2 separate regions of the Homo sapiens genome follow, and region 2 is linked to region 1. Evidence: fine-mapped expression QTL. A gene starts in region 1. The other region holds a variant in brackets. All regions are shown on one strand. Distances are from middle to middle. Region 1 holds the start of SARS1 (seryl-tRNA synthetase 1). Region 2 overlaps SARS1 (seryl-tRNA synthetase 1).

Evidence for each region. PIP is the estimated chance that this variant, and not a neighbour inherited with it, causes the effect.
Region 2: its variant is the best candidate, but not a certain one, in a credible set for the expression of SARS1 in lung (TOPMed, PIP 0.84).

Annotation. Positions count from the first base shown.
Region 1 is chr1:109,204,872-109,218,023 of GRCh38, reverse strand. It overlaps SARS1 (seryl-tRNA synthetase 1), which reads right to left and starts at 4,106. Exons shown (of 11, transcript NM_006513.4): 1 at 3,896-4,106. The coding sequence starts at 4,031. ELAPOR1 (endosome-lysosome associated apoptosis and autophagy regulator 1) reads right to left here. Exons shown (of 22, transcript NM_020775.5): 22 at 11,243-13,152. RefSeq lists an enhancer at 3,683-4,042 and a silencer at 4,093-4,312.
Region 2 is chr1:109,233,600-109,249,036 of GRCh38, reverse strand. SARS1 (seryl-tRNA synthetase 1) reads right to left here. Exons shown (of 11, transcript NM_006513.4): 7 at 13,606-13,827; 8 at 12,931-13,060; 9 at 12,489-12,646; 10 at 11,664-11,793; 11 at 10,855-11,306. The coding sequence ends at 11,149. Among named protein-coding and RNA genes, the nearest start is that of CELSR2, 8.2 kb to the left of the region's middle. RefSeq lists enhancers at 1-181, 6,043-6,542, 8,201-8,896, 10,837-12,036 and silencers at 7,896-8,190, 9,298-9,712. The variant G/C (reference allele first, on the strand shown) is at 11,047.

The sequences.
Region 1 (13,152 bases):
GAGATGGGGTTTCACCGTGTTAGCCAGGATGGTCTCGATCTCCTGACCTTGTGATCTGCCTGCCTCGGCCTCCCAAAGTGCTGGGATTACAGGAGTGAGTCACCGCACCGGGCTAGTTTCAGTAATTTAAAAATACTGATTATGTGTTGAAAATATAATTTCGGGGCTGGGCGTGGTGGTTCACACCTGTAATCCCAGCAGTGTGGGAGGTCGAAGTGGGAGGATCACTTGAGTCCAGGAATTCGAGACCAGCCTGGGCAACAAAGTGAGACTCTGTCTCTACAAAAAATTAAAAATTAGCTGGGCATGGTGGTGCACACCTGTGGTCCCAGCTACTTAGAAGGTTGAGGTGGGAGGACCAGTTGAGCCCAGGAGGTCCAGGCTGCAGTGAGCTGTGATCATGCCACTGCATTCCAGCCTAGGCAACAGAACAAGACGCTGTCTAAAAATAATAATAATAATTATATATATATTTATATATATATAACTTTTGGGTATACAAGACTAGGTTAAATAAAATGTATTACTAAAATTAATTTCATCTGTTTCTCTTTATATTTTTTATATTGGATACAAACAAATTAACAATTACAGACTATCGCCAACTTATAATGCTTAAACTTTATGATCAATAGTAATAAATTACATGAGATATTCACACTTTATTATAAAATAGGGTTTGTGTAAGATGATTTTTCCCAACTGTAGGTTAACATCAGTGTTCTGAGCACATTTAAGGTAGGCTTGGCTAAGCTATGATATTCAGTAGGGTATGTGTATTTCATGCATTTTTTACTTACAATATTTTCAACTTATGGTGGATTTATTGGGACATAAACCCATCCTAAGTCAAGGAGCATCTGTATACATGAAGCTAACATTCTATTCCTATCAGACAGTGCTGCTCTAAAGTATGTCACTGCAAAACTTAAGCCTTCAAGTAAAATGATCAGATTTGCATTCTAGAAAGATTATATGCCCTGGTGAGACTGGGTTAAGATTGAAAGCAGATAGAAAGCTATTCCAGTTGCTGGGGCAAACAATGATAAGGACCTGTTTTAAAACATGTGCAGTAAAGGTTATGAGGAAATAACAGCTTTAGCCTGGGCATGGTGACTCATGCCTGTAATCCCAACACTTTGGGAGGCCGAGGTGGGAGGATCGCTTGAGGCCAGGAGTTTGAGGCCAGCCTAGGCAACATGACGAAACTCCATCTCTACAAAAAATACACACATTAGCCAGGCATGGTGGCATTGCGCCTGTAGTCTCAGCTAGTCAGAAGTCTAAGGCAGGAGGATCATCTGAGCCTGGGGAGATTGAGGCTGCAGTGAGCTGTGATCATGCCTGGGTGACACAGTGAGACCTTGTCTCAAATTAAAAAAAAAGGAAACAACAACTTCAATTTTCAATGTACAGTAAAAAGAAAAAAAAAACCACTCAGGATAGCACTTTTTGAGGGAGGATAAAATTCTTGGGGTTTGCAGCAGATTTCCAGTTACATGGAAATCTATTTGCTTTGGGAGTGGGGCCAAGACAAATATGCCCAAGTGTAGGATCATTACGCTACTCTGAATTAAAAAGAAGAAATCACATTCAAATCCCTGGAGTTAGAAGAGTTGTGAGTTCCAATGTGGTATTATCACTCCAAGTTATACTGGACTCCTGAGTTCTCCAAAGGAACCCTAGTGGTACCTTGTAAGTCTACAGGAAGACAAATTGGTATAGTTGTAGTGGAGGGCTTGGTGAAGCTTGCTATGTGTCCTCAATTAGGGAGCATGATCTGAGTTCTTAATGTGGCTCTGGTTATAAGCCCTTGCTCAAGGCAATGAGAGAAGAACTCCATCCTCTGATCTGAAGTTCAAGATGTCAAAGAACCTTGATATAAATCTGCCAGTGTCTACCTTGGGCAGTTGGGAACTTGGGAAAAAACATAAATTCCATTTGGATGCAAAGAGAATATTGGAAAGGGTTGTCAAATAGAAAAGAATCAAATTAATAGATGCATTGGAAATAAACTATTGGCCAGGCATGGTGGCTCACACCTGTAATCCCAGCACTTTGGGAGGCTGAGGCAGGCGGATCACTTGAGGTCAGGAGTTAGAGACCAGCCTGGCCAACATGGTGAAACTCCCATCTCAACTAAAAAAAAAAATTAGCTGGGTGTGGTGGTGCACACCTGTAGTCCCAGCTACTTGGAGGCTGAGGCATGATAATCTCTTGAAACCGGGAGATGGAGGTTGCAGTGAGCCGAGATGGTGCCACTGCACTCCAATCTGGGTGATAATGAGAGACTCCGTCTCAAAAACAAAACAAAACAAAACAAAGAAAAGAAATGACTTCACATTTAGGATTAAGTTTTTTAAAACAATAACATAAACTACATAAACTGCTTTTCATAAAGAATATAAAGTGCCCTGAAGACAGAAAATATTCACGCCTCTAACAAACCTTTATCAAGGCCTTACCAAGGACCAGGTACAGTGCTAGGTACTGGGATTTTATGTATAAATGTGTATATGTATATCCACATATATACTGTATGAATAAAATTGAATCCTTGTCCCTGAAGAACTCACCACCTATCTACTTTTCAGATAAGGGACAAATCCCTCAGATGTGGACATTATACCCAAAAGACTAGCTAACACATTCAAAGTCATTTAGCACTGGCTAAGGGCTGGACTGACACAAAAATCTGATACTCCTGACTTCAGATTCAGTAGAACAGTGCTCAGGCTAGTTTTATCCTAAACAAAAAATGTGGCAAAATTAAATTCCATTGCAACTCGAAACTTCAGGTCAAGTGTGGAATCTCACAATCAAACAAACTACTACAATAGAGGGCCTAAGACATAGAATCAGCACAAAACTCAAGTTAAACAAATATTCTTTTGACATCCAAGATCCTTATAAACAGGAGAAAATCAATTTTCCTAATAGAAATCCATCACACTCTTGGATAGTGGCTGCCTTTGCAGTGTACTGTCATCGACCTAGCTCCCAGATGGTTGCAGACCTATTGCATCAGACAAATCAAATCACAAGTACTTGACAGCATCCGCCCAACCAGCGACCACTCCAGTTAATACAGGCAGAGATTTATGGGCAGATGGTTCTATGGTTTTATTCGGCTTCATGATAGATGCCCGATATGACTCCAAGATCCGGCAGTTCCAGGTTCTAGCCCAACTCTGCCAATGTCTTTAAAGGAAAACGTCCACAAATCACAATTAAACAGCTTCAGTCATTACAATCTTTTGCTCGCCTCCTCACTCCCCTCGCGTTTGATCTACCACGGAAAAGACTTTTCTAATTCTTAAAGGTATGCCCATAGGTCGGGGGATGGCCTTCCGAAAAGCTTCAGGGTCATTTATTTTGGCCAAGAGCGGCCTCCAACGCCCCGAAATGCTTCCGATACCGAAGGAATGAATCTACTGTGTTGCAGAAGTGACGCAGTCTCAGGAGAAGCCTTTGATCCTATCAAAACAAAGGAAAACCACTCTGGCCTTGCTGAAGATGAGAAAAAGACTGGGGGGGACCAAAGATTCGTGTTAGGAAAGCCGCGTAGACCCCACAACCTCCCGCCCCGGCATGTTCTGGCAACCCCTGGGGCAGGAAGGCTTGACAGCTCCCGATGCGCGTGCGTACGCACACTGGCAGCGAACGGCACTGAGCACGCGTGGAAGGGACCTCGCTCCGCCCGGGTGGAGGAGAAAGTGGGATGACCCCGGCGACCAGGCTGTGTTTTCGGGGATGGGGAGAACCTCGGAGCCACCGCACCCTGGGAGGGGGTCTGACGAAGGGTGGAAGCTGTGGCCTCAGGAGCGGTGGCTGGATTTGAGAGAGAAAATTGGGTTTAGCATCAAGGAGGTAACCCGCCCGTCCCGGTACTTACATCGTCGCCACTCGCTGTCTGCCTTCACCAGCTGGTCCACTAGTCCCGGGTCCTTGAAGCGCTTCTCCTGCGTCTCTCGGATGAGGGCTGGGTCCCCTCCTTTATCCACCCGAAACAAATCCAGATCCAGCACCATCTTCTTTCCTCCCGGGCCAACGCTCAGGGAAGCAAGGATCGCGCCGCAGCACTCAGCCTGTGACCGCCGCACTGCGCCGGCGCGCTGACCCGCCCTTCCTGCGCAGGCGCAGCTGGAGCCCGCAGGCGACCCTCCCCGCGACCGGAAGCGGCTGGTTGGAGGCGGGGCCGCGGAGGGAGGGGAGGGGAGAGTGGGTGGGCGTGGGACTATACCTCTGGTTCCTGCTCCCCAGCTCTGCTACAGTCTGCAGGAACTGTGATCGCCACATAAAAGTGTGAATGCCTCAGTTTCCTACTCCTGTCTCAGGCTAGGCAGAGGCCTGTCCCCTCATCCCTAGCTTAGAGGCCGGGGCCTTCACCAGGTGCCCGTTTTCCTCTCACTAGGTTGGGTTCTTCCACTGGGCTCTTTCCCTGAACCTCGGCCGTCTTCTCCATCTTGATACAAGAGGATGGCATATTTAGTCCCAGGGCTACCTCAGCTTAAGATTCCTGCTCTCGTGCCTTAGAAATGGTATACCTTTATTAATCTGATTATTGGATAAACCAAATTGTCACTTTACCAACTCTTAAGAGCACAGCTTTGGGAAAGTGCGGTTGTCTTTTAGAGAGAGACGAGAGAAAACTTTTCCAAAGGGACATTAAGCAGATTTGAACGCCGTATAAGGTGTTGAGGTCATGTCTTGGGTCAATTTGAAAGCGTCTTGAAGAACGGTTTGTATCATACTTTGATTTTATAATGTTCAGACCTTTAAATGAAATATTCTAGTTGCCGAGTGAAGCCAAAGTTATCAAAGAATCTCCCTGATAACAAGAGATTATTTGAAGGATTTGGGAACAGGTGATCTCCTCCCCCACCCCCACCCCCAATCCTTCCACTCTGCAGAAACTTTAAAGCCTCACTTCCAATGCCTTCTCGAAGCTAGATGTGCTAAGACCTTCTTGATCTTATACCGCCGTCATGGACTCCTGAGATGAGGGTGTGACATAGCTAACTATCATATTATTTATTTATAATATGAAATATATTTGGGCTTTGTCCCTGGTTCCTGACACAGCCCCTAAAACCCTTGAATTTCCTGGGTTATACGTAATGGGTCTCTTTGATAACACCTGAGTTTATAATAAGGAGGTGATTTAGGATGGGGGCCCTAGATAACCTTAGGATGGGGCCAGTCACCAGAGAGACCAAGTGATTGGAGGATTGGAACTTTCATCCCCACCCTTCAACCTCCAGGAAAGGGGGAGGGGAGGAGCTGGACATCAAACTCTATAAACGCTCGAACAACAAGAGTTGATGAGCTTCAGGGTTGTTGAACATGTGGAGATGCCAGGAGGGTGTCTTGCCCAGAAAGGTTATGGAAGCTCTGCACCCCTGACACCTTGCCCTATCCATCTCTTCATCTGGCTGTTCATTTGTACCCTTTGTACTATCCTTTATAATAAACTGGTAAATGTTTCCTTGAGGTCTGTGAGCCTTCTCAGCAAATTAATCAGACCAAAGGAGGGGGTAGTGGGAGCCCCAGTTTATAGCTGCTAAGAAGTATAGGTGAAATCTACTACTTGCAATTGGCATCTGAAGAGGAGCAGTCTAGTGGGATCAAGCCCTTACCCCATGGAATCTGACACTACCTCCAGGTAGCTAGTGTCAGAATCAGAATCGAATTGAATTATAGAATGCTTAGCCAATGTCCACTGGAGAATCGCTTGGTGTCTGAGGAACTTACCCCCCAGGGCCCCTCACCACTGCATCTGGTCACAGAAATGTTGTGTGTTGAGTGTGGGTTTTTGTTTTTGTTTTTTGTTTTTTGTTTTTTTTTGCCTCTTACACTATCCCTGCTCCCCAAAAAGCCTCTGCCAAGCCAACCCTGAAGTGTAGGTCAGGTCTAACAACAATGATAGAGCTAAGTAGAGACCCTGAGGGAGGCAGAGGAAAGGGGCTTGTCTGGGTGTGCTCTCCTTGGTTCAACCTGCCTATGGTATTAGATTTAAAACCAGTGGAAAGGAAGGGTGAGGAGCTGCAGTCTTGGAGGAAAACATCTAAGAAGACTCTCCTCAAAGTGTTGGGTTCCCTAAAACCTTCTGAGGGCAAGGTCTGTGATGGGGGCGCTCCCTGCTTCCATGTCATTGAAGGCACCGCCAAAGTGTATTGCCAATTAAGTTTCTAAAACAGTGGCAGGTGTTTCTGAGGCTGAAGTGATCCCAGGCCTAGGGGAGGAGGGCCACTGGGTCAACCCTTTAGGAAGGTCATCAATGTCATTCAACAAGTGATCTTGAAATTCTGATCTCTCCAAATTTATTCATGCATTTTTACAATTGATCTTATCATTAGATTACAAACATCTCCCTTTAAAATGTTCATATGGGCGGGCGCGGTGGCTAATGCCTGTAATCCTAACACTTTGGGAGGCCAAGGTGGGTGGATCACCTGAGGTCAGGAGTTCGAGACCAGCCTGGCCAACATGACAAAATCCCGTCTCTACTAAAAATACAAAAATTAGTTGGGTGTGGTGGCACATGCCTGTAATCCCAGCTACCTGGGAGGCTAAGGTACAAAAATTGCCTGAACCCAGGAGGCGAAGGTTGCAGTGAGCTTAAATCACGCCACTGCACTCCAGCCTGGGTAACAGAGTGAGACTCTGTATCAAAAAAAAAAAAAAAAAAGTTGATGTTACCTGATGAGTATAATAAATTAACATAATAGCATACTTCATCAGCTTAGAATCGTGGGATTTTTAGAGTTGGAGGGGAGCTTCAGCTATCTGTTAACTTAATAATTCCTGATTTTTTCATCACCTTGTCCCTCATGTTTTGAAATATTTTTGTCTAATGAACATGATTTTTAAAAAATAATAATTTGCCTTTTTTATTAATCAGATCTATATGGCTGCCACCTAGAAATTCTGATCAGCAGGAAATAGGCAGTGTTACTGCACCAAGTAACTCCTGCCAGAAGCTAACGCAAAAACAAATCAACATAAAAACTTTCGTTATGGAGTGATGGTGTGAAGCCCTGCCACCTTTGAATATGTGATTTCTGTTAACCCTTACTACCAAGAATGCTCTTGGGCACTGCCTCTGAGGACTGAAGTGCTCAAGAAGCCCTGACTGGAAAACAGCCAGCCAGGCTAACCCTTTTATTTTCTATATAAGGAAACAGCCCCAGAGAAGATAAGTGATGGAATCAAAACCAGGACACAGGTAAATACCTAAGATAGCCTAATGTTTGGGCTTTGCCCTTTTAGTAGCAATCCTTAGCAGAAAACAGGTCAGTGAGGACCCTGACTATGCTATGGGGCCTGATCTTATAGGGCAGAGACCATTGCGTATTTGCATTTTTCTCCCCACGGGACCTAGCACCCTGCCTTACCCATGGTAAGTGCTTGTTACATCCTCCCTGAGTGAGTGGGTTGCGAGGAAGTAGGCTGAGAGGATGGGAGCTTGTTGCAGGTCAGCGAGCAGAGTCCTGGGTGAAGATACTGCCTTGGGGATCCTGGGCAGCTAGTGGGCAGCCTAGGGGAAAAGAGCAACTGCAGAGACGGAGCAAAAAAAGCGGGTGTGAGGCACCCAACAAAAGCTGCCTACCTCAGTTTTCCCAGTTTGGAGCTGGCTAACTCGGAAGGGTTCTCTGAGGCCTCACTGTGGCAGCCCTTTGTGTTCCTCTGTCTTGGATTTGGAGTAGGGTTTCTCAATGTTCACCGAACAAGTCCGGTCCTGTCACTCCCTTGCTAGAAGTCTTCTGTGGATACCTGTTACCCTCAGGGGAATCCAAACATGGCTGGCAACGCTATATATGATCTGTCCCTACCAGCTTCTCTAACATGTTCCCTCTTTATCTCGTGTGTGTGTGTGTGTGTGTGTATGTGAGACTGAGTCTCACTCTGTTGCCCAGGCTGGAAAACAGTGGTACAACCATGGCTCACTGCAGCCTCGACATTTCCAGCTTCAGGGGATCCTCCCACCTCAGCCTCCCGAGTAGCTGAGACTACAGATGTGTGCCACCATGCCCCAGGCAATGTTTGTATTTGTTTTTGTTTTGGTAGATACAGGGTTCTGCCATGTTGCCCAAGCTGGTCTCGAACTCTTGGGGTCAAGCAATCCACCCACTTTGGCCTCTTAAAGTGCAGGGTTTACAGGCATGAGCCACCTCACCTGGCCCTCTTTATCTCTTAACATTTCCCCCTCGTATTCCCCATTCCAACCTTCTTGTGGCTCCCTTCCTTCCCTCTGAGCCTTTGGTTGCACAAGTTCCTTCTACCTGGAACTCCCTTTCCCTTCTCTGTTCCTCTTACCTGGCTAATTCCTCCTTTCTCCTGGAAGCCTTCTCTTACATCCTCTTTACCCCTCCCTGCAAATTGGTTAGACACCCTTCCCGTTTCCCACAGTACAGTAGTATTGATGATACTGTTTCAGGAGGAACTGACAACCCTGCCTCCAGTTCTGGCTTACCCACTCCCTTCTATCAGAGAGACACAGTAACAAAGGAGGTCCACGTTGCTATCCTTCAGCAACTAAGCAGGAATCATTTAAAAATAGCGTGGGTCGGGGAAAGCTGCCAGGACTTGGAGGGACTTTGATCCAGCCTCTCCATCTGATAGAATTGGGGTGCGAAATCAATTCTCCCACCACACTGTATCTTACGGTAGTCTCCAGTGGATGCCTGAAACCACGGAGAGTACGGATCCCTACATATACTGTGCTTTTTCGATCTGGTAACTCAGATGGCTGCTAAGTGAGTAATGGGTGGATAGTGCAGACAGTATGGATACTCTGGACAAAGGGATGATTCATGTCCCAGGTGGGAAGGAGTGAGATGGCACAAGATGTCATTATGCTACTCATAATGGCATACAATTTAAAACTTATAAATTGTTTATTTTTGGAATTTTCATTTAATATTTTTTGACTTAAGTTGACTTTAGGTAACTGAAACTGTGGAAAGTGAAAGTACCGTTAAGGCTGAACTACTCTATAGGGAATTGCATTTTATGTGGGATTGTTAACTTTGGCACTGAGACAAAATTAGTTTATATTTCAAATTCTCCTTGAATAGCTCTTAAAAACCCTAAATCAGTTTCTCTATCTCTTAATACTCATTGTTGCTCTATGCTTCCCAGTTAATTAATTGTCTTCCTTAAGATTTAGACCAAGTCGTAAGTATATTCTTGCCTGGTCACCTGATAATGTATTTTACTTCTTTGTCAGTGATTGGGAAATTCTTAAAATCATTTCCATATCATTACACACCCCTCTCACTGCCCCGCAGTTTCAAGCTTGATTGTGTCTGTTGCTTGTTTGTTGCATTGCACAGTACACGGTTGTATTCATAAAGATTCATAGCGGTACTCCCATGGGACTGTTTTTGCCCTGTTATTTCCCACAGTGGGGTGACGTGGAAGGCTGAGTGGGATCTGTGAGGTGAAAAGGAAGCAGAGGGGCAGAGAGGAGAGCATATTCCAATGCTGGAGGCATGAAGGTGCTTATGACTCAGAGACCATCAAAAGCTCAGTGTGGTTAGAGTAGAAACAATGTTGGGAAGGTGGGCCGGTGGGCCGTTAGGGACCCTGTAGGCCACGTAACTGAATCTATTGGAGACACAGTTTCTTCCTCTATTGTAATGGGTGTAATGGGGATAGTAGCTGCCTCCAGGGCTGTTCTGAAAATGAAAAAAGGCAATGCTGTGAAAGCATTAAGTCCAGGCTTGACACAGATGCCAAACGAATGCGTTTTCTTTTCTACTTACCTTCTTAGAGTTTGGACTGTATGTTATAAGCAGGGGTGATGTTCAAAATATTTAACCACCAGTACAACCCAGGTACCACCCAGTCAAAGTAGATGTGGGTCATAAACAACCAGCCTTGGAGTGTAGGTGAGCTGCTGCCAATTGCTCCTGCCTGACAGCAATAAGGAGCCATCAGAGATGGCACATTTGAGTGCCATCAGATGTGTTAGAAAAACGGCTCTGAGTGTTCCAGCTCTTGTAGAATTTTTTTATTTTTTTTACAGACAGGGTCTGCCTCTGTCACCTAGGCTGGAGGGCAGTGGTGCAATCCACCATCATAGCTCACTGCAACCTCAACCTCCTGGCCTCAGGCGATCCTCCAGCCTGGCCCTCCCAAAGTGCTGGGATTACAGGCATGAGCCGCCACACCCTCTTTTAGAATTTGGTTAGCAGGTTTTCTGCCTTTTACCAGAAAACTTTTCATGAAAAAAAGAAAAAGAGCTCTGGCTACAGAGCAGGGGGGTGATACTGGTGTGGGAAGCACTGGCGCGGAGAGGCCTGTTAGAAGACTAGAAATTACCTAAGGACCCTGACGAAGAACATCTGGCACTTAGTGCCATTCAGTCTGAAAAGTGTGACATTCCCAACTCATCTATTAATAGCTGAGAGAATTATTTTTGGGGATCAAGTGCCCTCAACTAGAATAAAGTCCTGAAGCAGAAAAATCCTGCCAGGCACGCTGGCTCATGCCTGCAATCCCAGCACTTTGAAGGCCAAGGTGGGCAGATCTCTAGAACCCAGGAGTTTGAGACCAGCAACATGGTGAAACCCTGTCTCTCCAAAAAATACAAAAATTAGCCAGGTGTGGTGGCGCATGCCTGTAGCTACTCAGGAGGCTGAGGTGGGAGGATCACTCAAGCCCAGGAGGTTGGAGCTGCAGTGAGCTGAGATTGTGCCATTGCACTCCAACCTAGGCAACATAGTGAGCCTCAGAAAAAAAAAAAAAAAAAGAAAGAAAGCAAAAATCTAGCAACCTCAGGAAATGGTAGGCCCTTGATATCATCTAGGATTTTCTCCACATCTAGTCTGTAATAATCTACTTCATACCCAAAGAAGCTAATTTTGCTTCTATTTGTGGATTTATTGTTATGTGGCTGGCCTCATGTTTCCTGAAAGAAACCTGAGCAGAAGGGAAGGGAAGTAGCATGCGAAGTGGTTTATGAGTTATTTCTTTTGAGCTCATTCAATCTTGGTGTGTTGGGTATCATTAGATGCATTTTATTATTGTGGAAACTGAGGCTTTGGTTATTGACTGATTCCTCAACAAGTAGTGGGAGGCTTCTAGCCTATGTCCATCTTGTTCCAAAGTCTGTGCTCTTTTCTCTGCCTCTCTGCGAATGTGGAATCCTTCTCCTTTTCAGTTTAAGCTTCCAGGACACTTACATTTCCCACTCACCCCTCCAGCCACCCAACCCATGTTTAAGAAAAACAACTTGTAAGGTATGTTTTTATTTTACAAAAAAAAAAAGTGACATGCAATAACCCATCTTCTAACAAACTATTAACGCTTGGATTACAGGGTAAAAAGGAAATCCAACCAGCCCTGATGAAAAAAAATTCGATTTCACAAAGCTGAAAAAATCTATTACAAAGTTTCTGTTGTATAAATATAGTCAGTCTTATCTTTAATGTAGTCAGACAAAAAAAAGTTTTGTTGGCACTAAAACAAAAACAAAAGCAAAAACCCTACTGCTTGAATACACCACAATCTTCATTTGTATTCCCAGCCAAATACAGATGATGTCTATAGCATGACAGTTACTGCATGTTCCAGGACTCAAGGTAACCAAATGAGATTTAAACATTTTATCATACTCCCTCTACCAACAACAGCTTGGACAGACCACTTTAGCCCTGGGTCAAGGACTAAAGCCTTTGTTCATAGAAAATTGAACATGTAGGCCAGGCACGGTGGCTTACACCTGTAATCCCAGCACTTTGGGAGGCCGAGGTGGGTGGATCACTTGAGTCCAGGAGTTTGAGACCAGCCTGGCCAACATGGTGAAACCCCATCTCTACTAAAAACACAAAAATTAGCTAGGCGTGGTGGCGCATGCTTGTAATCCCAGCTACTGGGGAGGCTGAAGCAGAAGGATCACTTGAACCCAGGATGGGGAGGCTGCAGTGAGCCAAGATCATGGCACTGCACTCCAGCCTGGGCAACAAAGCTGACTCTGTCTCAAAAAAAAAAAGGAAAAGAAAATTGAACATGTGTTTGCTCTCAAGTGGGCGGACAACTCTGTGAGTTTGCTGAAAACCATTGAATCGTATGTTTTAAAGGTGAATTGTGTAATATGTGAATTATATCTCAATAAAGCTGTTAAAAATATATGACATGCCTAACTTGCTAGGGGAGCAACAGGTGACCCCAGTAGCGTAACTCAGGAGTTCCTGACAGGTCACAGGGCAGACCTGCAGAAGTCAGCACGGTAAGGGGTAGTAAAAAGTAGCTCCTTAAAGTATTATGGCTAAAATCAGTGGAGTCAGAATAAAGAAGTCAAAGACATATGTAATTTTTCCTACTGTTTCCGGAATAGTCTAAGGGCTGTCTGTGGCCTTTGTCACAAAAGAAAGCTATTCAGTGAGACAGCAGGTGCCCAAGTATTGCTGAGGCTACAGAAGACTTTAGGCTGGAGCTCAGGAGCTGCGTATCTGCATCCACACTGGGGGAAGTTCCAACATGGACACAGGTTCTGAGAGCCTGACTCCTACAAAAGGAGGGGAGAATTTGGATACCCAAAGAAAAACTGGATTTATTAAACCAAAGGGACTCCCTGCCGTCACCAACACTGTTGATGGCCAGGGACCACAGCCTGGCTCTAGTTCTCATTGACTCTTACAAAGCCATTGCCAGGGCAGCAGTGGCTAATCAGATGAGCATTTTGTGGCAGACTAGTCACTTGCAAATGCCATCCCCTTTCTATATCTACCATCTGGTCACCAAATGGTCACTGGAGAAAGGGCACAGGCACAAATCATGGGCAATTGGGGCTTGACCAAGGGAAGGTCACCCTAGCCTGATAGTGATGGAGGCAGAACTGCCAGTAGAAGAAAGAAGAAGGTAATTTAAAGTCTTGCTCTGGTTTTACCCATTCTAGGTACTTAAAAGTTCATTGATAATAGTTTGTGTAAAATTGGGGAAAATGGGCATAGAAGACACCCACTCTACTCACCTTTCAGAAGGGATGTTGCCAGAAATTGGACCAGAAGTCTCTTTAGTTTTTTATCACACAAAGCAATTGAGAATGAAAAAAAGAGAAAGATAGGGGCTTAATAGTGAGAAGTATCCCAGCTTGGTGAACACCTTGTTTATTTTTAAATTTTTTAGAGACAGGGTCTCACT
Region 2 (15,437 bases), 30 kb before region 1:
GGAAGAATGACCCCAGCCTCATGTTGGACACCACTTGGGCTTTTCCAGGGAAGTAAATTAGAAGGGTCAGAGTGGGTGGAAGCCAGGTGGTGCAAACACACTGTCACCAGATTCGGAGGCCGGCTGCGGTGGAGCCTAGCTTTAACACAGGCTTCCTGGATTCTAGACAAGGGGCTTACACTGCCCCCTGAGGTCCTGTCTAGAGAGGCGGCCTCTCATCCCCTCCTGCCTCCCTGTCCATGTCCTGCGGCTACCCCCTCCTTCCGCCACAGTTTTGTGACCAGCGAGGAGGCCTACCTGGTACCCGGGCTCCTGACCCTCTCCAAGGCAGCTTCATTTGAGAGGGTGTGCAGGATTCCAGGGGTTCTCCAAGAGGACCAGACATGAAGCTGGACCACACGGAGAGCCAGGCAGGAGCCGTGCAGGCGACCCAGAAAAGGCTTCCCTACATCCTGGAGCAGCCAGGGGCCCAGTCAGGTAGTCCCTGGGGGGATGCCCTGGCCTGGGGGGATGCCTGGGCCTGGGTCCCAGCCTCCAACACCACAGCTATGTGACCTTGCTCAAATTCTGTGCCTCAATGTCCCTTTTTGTAAAATGAGGGGATTGAATAAGGTGAATGGTTCTCAAATGTTTATTTAGCAGTAGAATTCTTTTCTTCAAAAGAAATCTGAAGTGGAAGGCCAGAATATAGAACAGATGAGTAGTGCTGCTGGGTTGAAGTGAGGGGGTCAGGGCCTTGCCCCTCTCCACCACTCCCCCAACCAAGAAATCCCTGGGCTGCTCTGTGCAACTTGAGGGTCTGGAGGAACCCATCTGAAAAGCACTGGATCAGGTGCTCCCTTCTACCACTGCCCCCGGTCACAGTGGTGCCACTCTCACTGGGTCACAGCAGAGGATCCCCCAGCCCCAGGCCCAAGGAGTGTCTGTGTGACCACACAGTGAGGCCAAGGATGAGAAATCAGCTTTTCTCTTTTCCCCTGGGGAAACAGGAAAGGAGATGGGCCTTGGGTACAGCAAGAAAGATTAGGGTTAGACTGTGCTCCTGGCAGGATGGATAGAAGTAGGAGGAGGACCCATGGCTCAAGGAAATGCCCTCCCCTTTGACCAAACAGGAGCTTTCTTCCTCTGAGCAAGGCCAAGGGCAGCTCTGGAGATGGAGGCGTGGGTTACACGCCTCCGCAGGGCTCTGCCTCTCTAGACTTCCTCAGACTCTGGAGTTTGGAAGGATCTAGGGGCTGCGTGGGCATTTTGTTCTTCACCTAATAGCCATGTGGTGCAGAGAATGCTTGGAAATTATACCATCTGTTAATTATCCTTTGAATTGGGGTTGGGTAATGAGACTCTCATTTCTGGTGAAGGCCCAAGCCAACCCGTGGAGAAGCTGCAACTCTCCATTCATCTCGCTCCCTTTGTTGCTAAAATAAGCTTTCTGGGTGGGAGGAAAGAGTAGCCCTGGCTCTGGATCACGGAAGGTGGTTCTGGGGCCTTGCACCTTGAGGCAGGGGTTGCCAGGGAAGGCATGAGCTCAGAAGCCCCTTCCAGGTGGGTGGCCTTTCCACCCAAAGGCAGATAGGTTGGGGGATCCAAGGAACCCTTTCCTTCATCCCCAAGCACATTTGGCAAATAGTCCTTAATCCTCCCCAGTCCTCCCTCCGGGGGCACAGGACAGAGCTCTCTCCCCATCACTTCCTCAGATACTTCCAACTCCCAAAAGCAGGAGGGAAATTTCCAAGTTTCATATGCATCACTGAGAGTCTCAAATGAGGGAGGGGTTGCCCTGGTGGAGGCCTCCCTGATCCCCAGGGAAGGGCTGCCTGCTTCATGGAGCTTTCCAGTTGTAAGGAACCTATGGACCTCCCTCCTGTGTGTAAGGGACATTTAGGCCTCCCTTCTGCATAGCTTTTAGGTGCTATCAAGGGGCAGCAAGGGCTTGGGGTCTGTTAAAAGAGAATTTATTGTTCTTCTAGTCCAAACCTCCCACTTCACAGTGGAGGCTCTGGGAAGGAAGGAAACCTGCTTGGCTAGCCTTGCGGCTGTCCTTTAGCTCTGGTGGGATTTCCTTACTCAGGTTGCTTCCTGAGGACCCCCTGGATAAGGCATGGCCCTGGCTTTCAACACAACAGGGTCGCATGGGTGAAGTGCTCCAGAAGCAACTGAGAGAAAAGGCTAAAGGAATTCAGAGGACAGAGCAGTGAGGGTGGAGGAAATCCCAGAGGGCCTCTAGAGGAGACGGGACTTGGGCTGCATCTTCAAGAATCAGGAACAGCATTCCTGGAAGAGGAATTCATCAGTTAAGTCACTTAATCTACACATTAAGTGTCTTCTCCATGATTATACAGCTAGTAATGGAAGAGCTAGGATTTGGACCCCGGCAATCTGACCCCAGAGCCCACTCTCTTAAGCAGTACACTATGAATGAATGAAAGGAATGAATGAAATGCAAGCATCAGCTTGGCTGGAGCTGAAGATTGGGGTGGCTCTGCTGTGGCCTAGCACGCTGGTGAGGAAGAACAAGGTGAGCTCTGCCTTGGGCAGATCCCTGTGGCCTGAAATTCTGGAACCAATGGCCTGCTGGGAAGGAGGGGTGGGGAGGGAGGCTGCTGATGGGATCGGTCATGGTGACCTTTTGTGGGTGGGCAGGGCAGTTTCTCTGGAAAGAGAAAGAGGCCCTGGCACCCGATCCCATTTCTGGGCTCTGTGCTGCTTTAGAAAGGGCACAGAAACCAGAAGGAGAGAACCTGGCCATGGGTGACTCCTGGAGCTCCTGGACTGTGGGGTGGGTGGCGTGAAGGAACCAGGAGCCAGCAGACTGGGGGATGGGGGTGGCCAGAAATCTGAACACCCTTCGGTCTACACTTGCCTGTCGTGCCCCGCCCACTGTTCCCCACTTTCTTCAAGGCTGGAAGGTGCACTCCTTGTGGGGGCTCTGTTGTTTCTCAGTTCCCCACTTCAGGTCTGTCACAGAGGGGGATACTCAGTCAGGATTTTATGGATTCTTCATGTGGTCACCTCCCCTCCAAACCAGTCTCTGCTCGGCAGTGAAAGTAATTTTTTTTTAAACTAATAAACATTTTTAGGTTTAAAAAATCTCCCCCAGTTTTTTATTTGGGAAAATTTCAAGCCTTCAGAAAAATCAAAAGAATGGTGTAATGGTATAATAAATACCCAGATATTCTCCTGCTAGATTCAACAATTTTTATTTTATTTTTTTCAGACAGGGTCTCACTGTGTTGCCCAGGCTGGAGTGCAATGGTGTGATCATAGCTCACTGCAGCCTTGACTGCTTGAGAACAGCCCCAAGTGATCCTCCCACCTCAGCCTCCTGAGTAGCTAGCTGGGACTACAGGTGCAGGCCACCCATGCCCAGCTTTTTTTTTTTTTTTTTTTTTTTTTTTGAGAGGGGGTCTTGCTGTGTTGCACAGGCTGATCTCAAATCCTGGTCTCAAGTGGGATTACATATGTGAGCCACTGTGCCTGGTGTCTGGATTCAATAATTGTTGACACTCTGCTTTATGTCTCTCAATTTTTGAAGAATGAGAGGAAAATGAGGTGCCTGAGCCCTGGGCCCCTCCGCAGGCAGCTCCTGAGAGTCAGGGAATGCAGTATTTTTTTTTTTTAATTTTTTTTGAGACGGAGTCTTGCTCTGTTGCCCAGGCTGGAGTGCAGTGGCACAATCTCGGCTCACCACAACCTCTGCCTCTCGGGTTCAAGTGATTCTCCTGCCCAGCCTCCCAAGTAGCTGGGATTACAGGCATGCACCACCATGCTCGGCTATTTTTTGTATTTTTAGTAGAGATGGGGTTTCACTATGTTGGCCAGGCTGGTCTCAAACCCTTGACCTTGTGATCCGCCCGCCTCGGCATCCCAAAGTACTGGGATTACAGGTGTGAGCCACTGTGCCTGGCCAGGAATGCAGTTTTGTGGGTAAAGTGAATGAGTTTAGAGCTGCCCTTAGAGTAGCCTAGAGACCCAGCTGGGCTACCAGATGGTGGCTCCAGGTATAAAGAGACATCTGGTCAGCCCTCTCTGCCATCCATCCAGTCATCAATCCATCCATCCATCCATCCATCCATCCATCCTTCCTTCCTCATTTCAGGTATTTATTTTTTGACCAATATTTTCCAAGTGCCTCCCCTTCTTCCCTTTCTTGCACACCCACAGGACTGCTGCTTCGACCAGGAACATGAAGGGGAATTCCTGGTATCATCTAATATCCAGTCCAATCCAAATTCCTTACTGTCTCCCAAAGGTCTTAGACAGCTGCTGCTTTCAAGTTCGTGGATTACATTTGGTCATATGTCACTCTTTTTTTTTTTTTTTTCTCTCTCTCTCTCTCTCTTTCCTTTTTTGTTGACATCGACTGAAGAGTCCAGTTTTCTTATTGAAGTGCCACATTCTGCATTTATCTGATTAAAGGATACCTAATGGTATCCTTCACAGGGTACTATTGCACGGCCTTAGATCTGAGCATGTCATTCCCCTTCTGAAAACCCTGCCGTGGGCCTCTGTTGTACCTTGAATAAAATCCAGCGTCCTTATATTTATCCACAAAGTCCAGTGTGGAGTGGCCCAGCCTCTTCTCACTCCTCCCCTTTCACTCTGTTCTGGACATGCTGGCTTCCTTCCAGCTGTTGAACATGGCAGTCTTAAATGCCCCCACTTTCCTGGCACATATGACAACTTGTAATTAGAGTATTCACTTGGCTAACATCAGTCTTACCCACTGGCAGTGAGCTCCAGGACCAGCGAGAACACATATGTCTTGAATGCCTATCACCTAGCACCTAGCACAGGCCTGACACACACAGTAGGCACGTGGAAAATATTGGTCAAAAAATGAATACATGGGCCAGGCATGGTGGCTCATGCCTGTAATCCCAGCAAATTGGAAGGCCAAGGCAGGTGAATCACTTGAGGTCAGGAGTTTGAGACCAGCCTGGCCAACATGGCAAAACTCTGTCTCTACAAAAAATACAGAAAGTAGCTGGCCGTGGTGGCATGCGCCTATAATCCCAGCTACTTGGGAGGCTGAGACGTGAGAATCACTTGAACCCAGGAGGCAGAGGTTGCAGTGAACCGAGATCATTCCACTGCACTCCAGCCTGGGTGACAGAACAAGACTGTCTTAAAAAAAAAAAAAGATAAAAGATAAAATGAATACATGAATGGAGGATGGATGGATGGATGGAAGAGAGGGGTGACCACATGTCCCTTTATGCCTGGAGCCACCATCTGGTAGGCCAGTTGGGTCTCTAGGCTGTTTTAAGGGCAGCCCTGAACTCATTCACTTTAACCACAAAACTGCATTCCCCATGCCTGCTGCAGCCAGGGGTAGAGGTTTTGATGTCCCAGCCCTGTGAGATAGACCTTCTTTGGCGCTTGTTAAAAGATGATATTGGATGCTTTATCCTAGTGATAGGTTCCACCCACAGTGCCAGTGTTCTTTGTCAAGGGTGGCTTAATAGGCCCAGCATTCCATAAAGATGTAAAGCCATCTAAGATCCAGCTGAAAATACTGCCTCTGACCACCGGGCAGGAAGAGATGGAACCTGGGGCTGAGCTTCGAGCGGCAAATCCCTAAGCACCCTCTGAATAACGTGGCTGTTCAGGCTGTCAGAGCAGGCCAAGGAAGGAGGCCCTGTCTGGCCAGAGCCATGCTCCAGCCACGGTGGTAGGTGGCTAAGTGTGAGAGGTACACAGATGAGCTATGTCCCCAAGGGACAGCCAGTCCCTTGGACAGAGACAAAAGCTGTCACAGAGCAATAGTCACTAATATTTTTGTGTGGGGGTGGAGGAGTTAGGGAGGGCTTTTTAAAGAAGGTGGCATTTGGCCGGGCACAGTGGCTCGTGCCTATAATCCCAGCACTTTGGGAGGCCTAGATGGGCGGATCGCCTGAGGTCGGAAGTTTGAGACCAGCCTGACCAACATGGAGAAACCCCGTCTCTGCTAAAAATATAAAATTAGCCAGGTGTGATGGCGTATGCCTGTAATCTCAGCTACTTGGGAGGCTGAGGCAGGAGAATCGCTTGAACCCAGGAGGCGGAGGCTGCGGTGAGCCGAGATCGCACCATTGCACTCCAGGCTGGGCAACAAGAGTGAAACTCCATCTCAAAAAAAAAAAAAAAAAAAGAAAGTGGCATTTGAGCTATCTTGAAGAGGAAGGAAGAATTCCACTAATAGGCAGGAGGAAAAGGCATCCAGGCAGGGGGAACAGTGTGAGCAAGCGTGGAGAGGTGCAACACACGGTCAGTGCCAGGAAACAGGAGGAAACAAGGGGGCGGTGAGAATAAGGAGCAGAGAGCCGCTAATCTGAACTGGGGGCACATTTTGATGAGCTGGGGCTCCAGCTGAGAAGTCTGGACCTTATAAGTTGAGGGGAACCATCTGAAGTGTTTTGGCAGGGGAGGAATGATCATGGCTGTGCCATCTGGCAGGCTAATCTGGCACAGTGAGGAGGCTGCGCCGGAAGAAGGGACTGAGGTCCAGCAGACTAGCAAGGAGGCCGCTGTAATAGTCCAGGAGGAGGAGGGCTGTGCTGGGGCCAGGGAGCAGGCTGTCAAGGGGGCAGACCTGAGTGATGAAGACTCAATGGCGCTGCGAAACAGACTGGCCCCTGGAGATGAAGAGGAGGGAGTTGTCCAGGGTGAGTCTCAGGTGTGTGTTGGGGTGCCTGAATACTAAGAGGAGATGCCCAATGTGTATGCTGGGGGTGGGTGGAGATGCTCAGATGAGAGAGAATGGATTTGAGAGCCCTGCATGTGGAGGTCACAGAGCAGCAGGGAAAGCGGAGGTGGAGGCCAGCATTAGGGTCAGGTGCCATCTCCTGACCCTGCCCACATCTCCAGCCTCCAGTCAGTATCGCCCTTACTTCATGCTTCAGCCATTCAGGCCTTCTTCCTGTCCCCTCGTGCAGTTCCCTCTGGAACAGTTCACCTTCCCTCTGAGGGGAATGGGGTGAAGGAGGGCCAGGAATGTTAATGAGGTAACAGAGCCTGCAAGTGTCCACTGTTCATTCATCTTTGAGGGAGAGGAGCCAGATGGGATCGCAATTTGACAGGAGCGGCAGGAGTGCAGGATGGCTGTTTTCAGATGGGGAATATGTTAGCAGGTCGGGACTGAGGGGAAGTGGGGCGGGAGGTTCAGCAGAGAGCTAGCTCAAGAACAAGGACTCAGGGGAAGCAGGATGGTGGCGAGTTCCAGGGCACAAGTAGATAAGACCTGGTTTTGGAGAAGGAGTAAAAAAAAAAAAAAGGTTTTCTCTGAGACAAGATGGAAGGAGGCAAGGATGAAGCGTATTCCAAATGGGAGCTTAATTCTTCAATTTCTTCAGGTTTAAAAACCACTTGTCCCAGAAGGTCACACCGTCTTATCAGCAATTTACACCCCAATGAAAATAAACTCCCAGACCATTTTGACAGCAGGTTTGTGTAGGGGGAAGGGAACCAAGTCCCATGGAGGGACAGGGACCAATCTCCAAAATGCAGGGCTTGTGAACCAGCCAGTCAGAGCAGCAGAAGAGGACCCGCCCCTCCGTAACAAGAGGTTCTCTCGGAGGTGGCTGGGACACCCTACCTCCGCCGGAAGGTCCCAGAGAGGTAAAGACCTGGAGTTCAGGGCTTCTTTCCTGGCAGATGGATGGGGAGCTGCACATTGCTGGGTTTCTGCAACATGAACCTGCCTGCAGCACCCCCACCCCACCCCCATGGGGAGGGCTTTTTTAATTTTTATTTTTTTGAGACAGAGTCTCACTCTGTCACCCAGGCTGGAGTGCAGTGGCACAATCTCGGCTCACTGCAACCTATGCCTCCTGGGTTCAAGCGATCCTCCTGCCTCAGCCTCCTGAGTAGCTGGGATTACAGGTGCGCACCACCATGCTCGCCTAATTTTTGGTATTTTTAGTAGAATCAGAGTTTCACCATGTTAACCAGGCTGGTCTCGAACTCCTGACCTCAGGCGATCCGCCCTCCTAGGCCTCCCAAAGCGCTGGGATTACAGGTTGGCCCCGCCGGAGAGGGCTCTTAAAAGGGCAATGTCAGAGGCCGAGGCATCAGCCCCACCAGGACCTGGCCAAGTCCAGGCTGCAAGGAAGCACTCCCCTTTTGTACCTGGGAAGAGCTGCTGGGGAACCCCATGTTGGGAGGTAACTGGGAGAGCGGGGCAGGCCCCTCATCCCGGCACAGGCTCCGACACGCAGTACATTTGTCTGGCGCCCATCCCAGCTCTGCCTGTCAGACTCATCCTGGGAGTGCAGCCAGGGCCGCCCCCGCCGCGTACCCCCTGGGGAAGGATGGGGACTCGGGGAGAGGAGGCATTCTCAGGACCTGGGGTAAACCGGAAAAGCTTCAGGGGAGGAAAAGCAGGACAGACGGCTAGGAGAATGTTGGTTCCCAGGAGTGAGGTTTCAGTGTTTGGCTAATGAGCTGCCCTGCCCAGCCTGGACTGTGAGCGCAGGCAGGTCCCTCGGCCTTACGTTGGGTCCCCAGTTACCAGCCTCTTTAGAGTTTCTAGAAGTCTGGCTTATGGTTGTCTCTCTTGGTGGAGAGGCCAGACTGTTGGTCCCAGTGTTTCCTCACTCCCTGCCTAAAGCACCCAGACCTGCATCTTGGGCCCTGAATACCTGGGTGTGGGAACCCAGGGTTGGTGAGGGACCCAGGGCTCTGACTCACTCCACTAGGCCTCTGGAGGGTGTTTGCTAACTGAGGTAACCTGGGTAGCTGAGGTTGGAGATGGGGCAGGTCAAGGTGCCAGAGATGAGGGCATCAGGCGTGGGATGCGGAGGCAACTACCAGGGTGGAGTCAAGGCTATTGGGCCTGTTCCCAACTGCTCGGCTTCCAGGTGGGTCGGCCCCTCCTAAATGAAGCTTGCATCAGCCCCATCCCACTGCCTCAGGGAGGGAGAGTGTCTGGTTTTCCCTCTCTGAAGGAAGGCGAACCACACCTTTCCCAACAGTTATTTGTGAGCAGGAACTGTGTTACCTTCTTTCTGTAAACCCTGCTCCTAATGGTGCCTGGCACAAGGTAAGCACTCGGTGACCGTGTGTGCCCTCCTGCTGTTGTGCTCTTGGGTATGACCTGTGGGGAGGGACCTCAGCCACAGTCATCCTTGCCTTCACTACCATTGACTTCCTCTCCTCTGGCTTCTGGAAGCATGGGGTCCCTTATAGTTACTTTCTGCTAACAAGCCAGTTTGTCCATACAGCCATCTTCCTAGCCAGGCTCCTACACCAGTCCCTACACGGGCAGGAGGAAGGCTGGCAGGGAAAGCTGGGCTGCCCAAGGCAGGAGGGTCTCTCTGCACAAAGCAGCTGAGAGTCCAGGCAGCCAGCTCCAGCAGGTAAGTCAGCTGGGTCCTCAGGGACTCAAAGCCCCAGCTTCTGCCCTCCCACAGAGCTCTCAGGGCCATGGCAAAAAGCAGAGCCTCCTACTGGTAGGAAGGTGACAGGCACCAGGAGCCTAAGCAGGTAGGCGTGGGGAGTGGTGCAGGCAGCTGTAGGGACTTCTAAGACAGAGCTAAGGCAGAGCAGGGGCGTTCAGGGCCCTGTGAGAGTTCCCAGTGGGCTTCTGGAATGGTATAGGGGGTGGGGCAAAACTAGCCTCCTGCACACTGTGTACGCTGCCTTTCTTCAAACCAAATAGTTGAGGCCACAGGAAATGTGAGTTTCTGGTCCTTCTGAATTACAAATGGGAGCAGCTTGCTCTTTGTCCCCTTGTCCCGGCTTTGTTATCCCAGAGCTGGGGCAATGGGCTACGGCCCAGGCGGGTCTGCCTGTGGGCCCCCAGCTGGCATAGCCAGGCAAGACAAGAGAGCCACTGTCACCCCTTCACGCACCTACCTCAGTTTTGACAGGGTTTCCAGCAGCAAGATTAATAGGATCAATCTCAAGCCCCCAGTGGAAAATGGAGCACATGGCCCCTTTCCTTGGTACTATGCTCCAGCAGGCCCAAGTCGCTGCTCAGGGACTAAGGAAGCTGAGGTGAGATAAAGGCTCCTAAGTGACAGCCCAGTTCACATTCCAGCTCTCAACCTCCCAAAGAAACATAAAGCACTGCCGAGGAGTCAGGACTTCCGACCTCCATCAGGCCACGTTGTCTCATCTCCCTTACCGTCCTTGTATTTCTGTCTTCCAAAGGATGGAATAAGCATAATCATATAATCATGTCCCCACCCTACCTTCTGGGACCATCACAAAGATAAAAGAGATCATCTATAGGGAGTATTTTAACCTCCTAGGAGAGAGGCACTAAACTAACAGAAGCTGTTATTAAAGTAAAGGGTTTGTAGATTGCAGATGAAAGGCAGCAGGTAAATAAACAGCCTGAACATCAGCCTCCCCTGAGAAAGGAACTGGCTATTAGGGCAACAGTGGGAGCTCCACAAAGGGGCTACAACATTTTCTCCTCTCCTCTGCCCTGCTGGCTATCCCAATCCTTTGGAGGTGCAGCAGCAAGTTGGTATGCAGTTGGTCTCCCCATGTGGGGATGGCTGTAACGAGAGAAACTGCTGTTAATAAGTCCCCAACCCATGCTAGGCATAGAAGCTAGGGGCTCTTCTGGATTAAATACAGCCTCTCGCTTTCCACAGAGTCCTTTGTAGGGAACAGAAGTGCTAAGAGGCTTTTAAAACAGTTCTGGTCTCTAAGCTAGTCCTACCTCAATGATTTCAAGCAGGAATATATTTGTAAAGGAGGATCCTGGCCCTTGCCCTGCAAGCTTTTGTGATTCAGACTCCATCTTCCACCTTCCCCTTGAGCTTTTTCTAAGTGTACCCCTCCCTTCGCTTACCTGTTCAAAGGCTCTGTGACTTGCTAACTGGAGGGAGCAGCCTAATTTGGAAGGAAAAGCAGAAGTGTATATCAGGGAGAACCTCAGAGGCGGGGTTCAAGCCCGGGGAAGAAGACTGAGGAAGAGTCCTAAGCCCTCCCCAGAGATGCTTTATTACATGGTTTCATCAGTCATCAATGATGGGTCCCTATGCCCATGCGAGGAGACAGGAACATCTGTGTGGTACATGGCACTGTTCCCCTCTCAGCTACGCAGTCAGATGG[G/C]GGCAGGGGGATGAATGGGTGCTTGGCTTCCCTGCTGTTGGGCAGGCTCTGAGATCTCAGCAGACAGAAATGAAAGCCTGGCAAATAGGGAGGCAGGAATGTTCAAGCATCGGTGACCTCCATGTTCTGCAGCCTGTTTTCTAGGGTGACGTCTCTTGCTGCTGCTTTCTTTTTGCTGCCCTCATGTTGCTTCTTCTGCTTCTTTGATGGCTCCTGCTCAATGGGCGCAGGCTTCACAAAGGGGATCAGTTCTTGCAGTCCTGGGAGGGAAGAGCCAACCAAATGACCTGTTGTTTCTCAGTGAGTCAAAGCCCTAAGACCTCTGGGGAGAATTCAACAAGACAATGATCCCTTTGAACAGAGGGGTCCCTTTGATAGGCACTGGTTTCCTTTATTCTTTTCTTCCCTAGTCTGAATTTTAGCAGCATTTCAACATCATACCTGCACTGGCTACTTTCTCAACCAGGCCCCCTGCCCTGCCCAGCCCGAGAGGGCAGACAGAGTTTCAGGGGCTGTGTCTGAACAAAAAAACCTGGTATATCCTGAAAGGGGACTGCTATTTAGAAGAGTGTGAAGACAGAAAAGAGGAGAACGATGAGATGAGCTGGGAGTTTTACCTGGCGGCATGAACTCCTTCAATTTCTCAGGCACAGTGATGCCCTTCTCTGTCTGGTAGTTCTCCAGGATGGCGCAGATGGTACGGGTAGTGGCGCACATGGTAGCATTGAGCATATGGACAAACTCCACCTGGGAAGACAGGGTCCCAGAGGGGAAGTCGGGCTCAACTCTCATCGGGTCTTACTGACGGCCAGGAACCATCCATTCAACCAGACTTCCCCAACCACAACTGTCCAAATCAAAATGATGGGTTCTACCCCTTAGCAACTTTTTTCTAAATTTGAATTATTTGGTATTTATTGCCTATTAGATAACTGCAGAAAGATCCCTCATGTTTCGATGAGTGACAAGTGGTAGCTTCTGGTATTCTGAGAGTTGGGCCCTTTGAGGGAAGGAAGAAACTACTATTGTGGCCTTTCCTTTTCACCCCTTTCAAGCACCTGACTTGGAAAAGAGTAGGGCCTGAAAATTGGGTTTGAAGAGAGCAGCTTACAACCCAGACCTTCTTGGGTGAGAAGAGGGAAGCCTCCAACTTGTTCTGTGTAGATAAATGGAGATTATTCTTTCTCTGGAGTTAAGAAAAACAAAGCCAGAAAGAGAAAAGCTAGAATTACCTTATAGAAGAGAGCTAGATTCAGGTTTCTAGCTAAAAGAACTCAGTCCTGACTCAGTAGAAGGCATTTTCAGATTCCCTTTTTGGTCTAGATTGAGAAGCTCAGATTTTCCCATGATGCTGGGGACCAGTGCACCCCAAAGGCTGAGAAATAATTCGGACGGGCCGTGTACTGAAGACTCTGCTTCCCACCTCCCTGGGGGCCATCTACCTTGTCCATCATCTTCTTGGTTTGCCCATATCGGATTCGAAGCCGGCGAGCCTGGTAATCCGTGCAATTAGAACAGGAGACCAACTCACGGAAGGCTCCTGAGCCCGGAAACCAGGCCTCCAGGTCAAGCTTCTTACTGGCAGCATGATTCAAAGAACCTGTAAGGAAAAACCCCTAGAATTCATGAAGGAGGGATGGTATTTCAGAAGGCTAACCTTTAGCAAGCCTGAAGAATTCTTTAATTCATGTCCTGTCTCCAGAGGTGAAATCACACCCAGATATTCTTAACACCAAATACTCCCAAGTGAGAAGAGTGTAATATTTTAATTAATGTGGGCAATGAGTTGAATTGTGAGCTGTTTCTCTGTGTGGCAGCTCAGCTGGTAAGGGTGGCGTCTGGGATTACAGGAAAGGGAGGCTGAGAAGAGGCTGGGTCCCATACCTGAGACAATATTCACAATGTGGTAAGGAATCCCCAGGGACTGGTAGAACTCCTCTGCGGTGGTAATCATCTCTTCAAACATCTCCCATGACTTGTTGTCATGGGGTGATGAGTACACAAACTGTTCAATCTGCAGAGAGGGACCCAAGGAAACGGTGACAGCGGTATAGGGTGAATAAAGGACTGAAGTGGGAGACATCCTTGCCATGAAGACCTGTTTCCACACCACTGGGAGGCAGGCAAGTCTGGGCCCCCAGCAACTGGGACTGGACCACAAGAGCAAATGCTTATGGTGCGAGCTTCCCGTATGCATGCCAGCCCCTGTTCTGAGTGCTTTACATATAGTGACTGGGATAATCCTCACAATAGGCCACAATAGGCCTGGTGAGGCAGGCACTGTTACTGTTATCCTCCTCATACAAAGGCAGAAATGGAGCACTGGGGGCTTATGCATTATGCCCAATGTTACACAGCTGGTGAGTGGTAAAGCCGCAGCCTGGTTTCAGGGTCCATAATCCACGCCACTCCACCATGCACTTCCCCAGAAACACAGAGGTAAGCAATGAGAGGAAAAGCTGGAGCCAGGATGGGCCTCAGCAACACAGATCCTATCTCTCATCTAACCATTCTGGAGACAGAGAAAGTTCCACTCCTTACCCTGACCCATCTACTCACCTTCTCAAACTGATGGACTCGGAAGATGCCACGGGTGTCACGGCCATGGGAGCCCACCTCCTGACGGAAGCAGGTAGACAGGCCAGCATACTTGATGGGCAGGTCCTCCGGCCGGAGCCACTCATCCCGGTGCAGGGCAGCAATGGGCTGCTCTGAGGTGGCAATCAGGTACTTCTCATCATAGGAGTTGTCATCAGACTTTTCACTGCCTTTGCCAATCACCTGTGGAAGGAAGGAGCTATACCAGTTAAGAGGAAGTGGGGAGGACCTTGGCTAGAATAAGAAACCACAAGAAAGAGATCAATAATAGTGCAGGAAAAATTTCCTTTAATCCCTGCCTGGGAGTGGGGAGAGAATACTAAAAAGATAAAGGAATGGGTCAGTCCAAAATGGGGTCCCTGACAGAGATCAAAGAAATGTAAATTAAGAGGAAAGAATATTTTCCACTTATCTTTTTTTTGCTTTTGAGACAGAGCCTCACTCTGCTGCCCAGACTGGAGTGCAGTGGCACAATCTCGGCTCACTGCAACCTCCACCTCCCAGGTTCAAGCGACTCTCCCACCTCAGCCTCCTGAGTAGCTGGGATTACAGGCACGCGCCACCACGCTCAGCTAATTTTTGTATTGTTAGTAGAGACAAGGTTTCACCATGTTGGCCAAGCTGATCTCGAACTCCTGACCTCAGGTGATCCACCTGCCTCAGCCTCCCAAAGTGCTGGGGTTACAGGCGTGAGCCACTGTGCCCAGCTATTTTCCACTTATCTAATACAGAAAACTCATCCATGATGAATAATGGTCAATGCTGGCAGGTATGCAATAAACCTGTGCTGGTAGCCACATACATTAATCCTTGTGAGACGTTTACTAAACACCAATGTGGAGCAAAAAGGGACACCAGTCTCTGCTTTCTTGGTGCTTACAGGTTAGTGGTTATGATCCTTAAAGAATATACTTTGCTGTTCAACTGAAGAAAATAATGCAAAAAAAAAAAAGTTCAGACAGGACAAAGTTCACTGTAACATTATTTATGTAATATTATACAACCATAAAAATGAAGACCATGCAGTAACACAGAAAAATACTTTTGATATAATGATACATAAAAAGGTGGCCAGGCACGGTGGCTCATGCCTGTAATCCCAGCACTTTGGGAGGCCTAGGCAGGCAGATCACTTGAGGTCAGGAGTTCAAGACCAGCCTGGACAACTTGGTGAAACCCCGTCTCTACTAAACATACAAAAATTAGCCAGGTGTGGCCAGGCGTAATGGCTCATGCCTGTAATCCTAGCACTTTGGGAGGCCAAGGCGGGTGGTTCACCTGAGGTCAGGAGCTCGAGACCAGCCTGGCCAACATGACAAAACCCCATCTCTACTAAAAATACAAAAAAAAAAAAAATTAGTCGGGCATGGTGGTGGATGCCTGTAGTCCCAGCTACTCAACAGGCTGAGGCAGGATAATCCCTTGAACTCGGTGCGTAGAGGTTGCAATGAGCCGAGATCATGCCACTTCACTTTAGCCTGGGTGAAAGAGTGAGATACCGTCTCAAAAAAAAAAAAAAAAAAAAAAAAATTAGCCAGGTGTGGTGGCGACGCCTGTAATCCCAGCTACTCGGGAGGCTGAGGCATGAGAATCACTTGAACCCAGGAGGCAGAGGTTGCAGTGAGCCAAGATCGTGCCACTGCACTCCAGCCTGGGTAACAGAGTGAGACTCTGTCTCAAAAAATGAATAAATAAATAAAAATAAAAATTAAAAATAATGCTAAGTTAAAAGGCAATTTATGTACATGGCAATTATAAGTATGTGAAAACAACATATATATGAAAAAAATCCC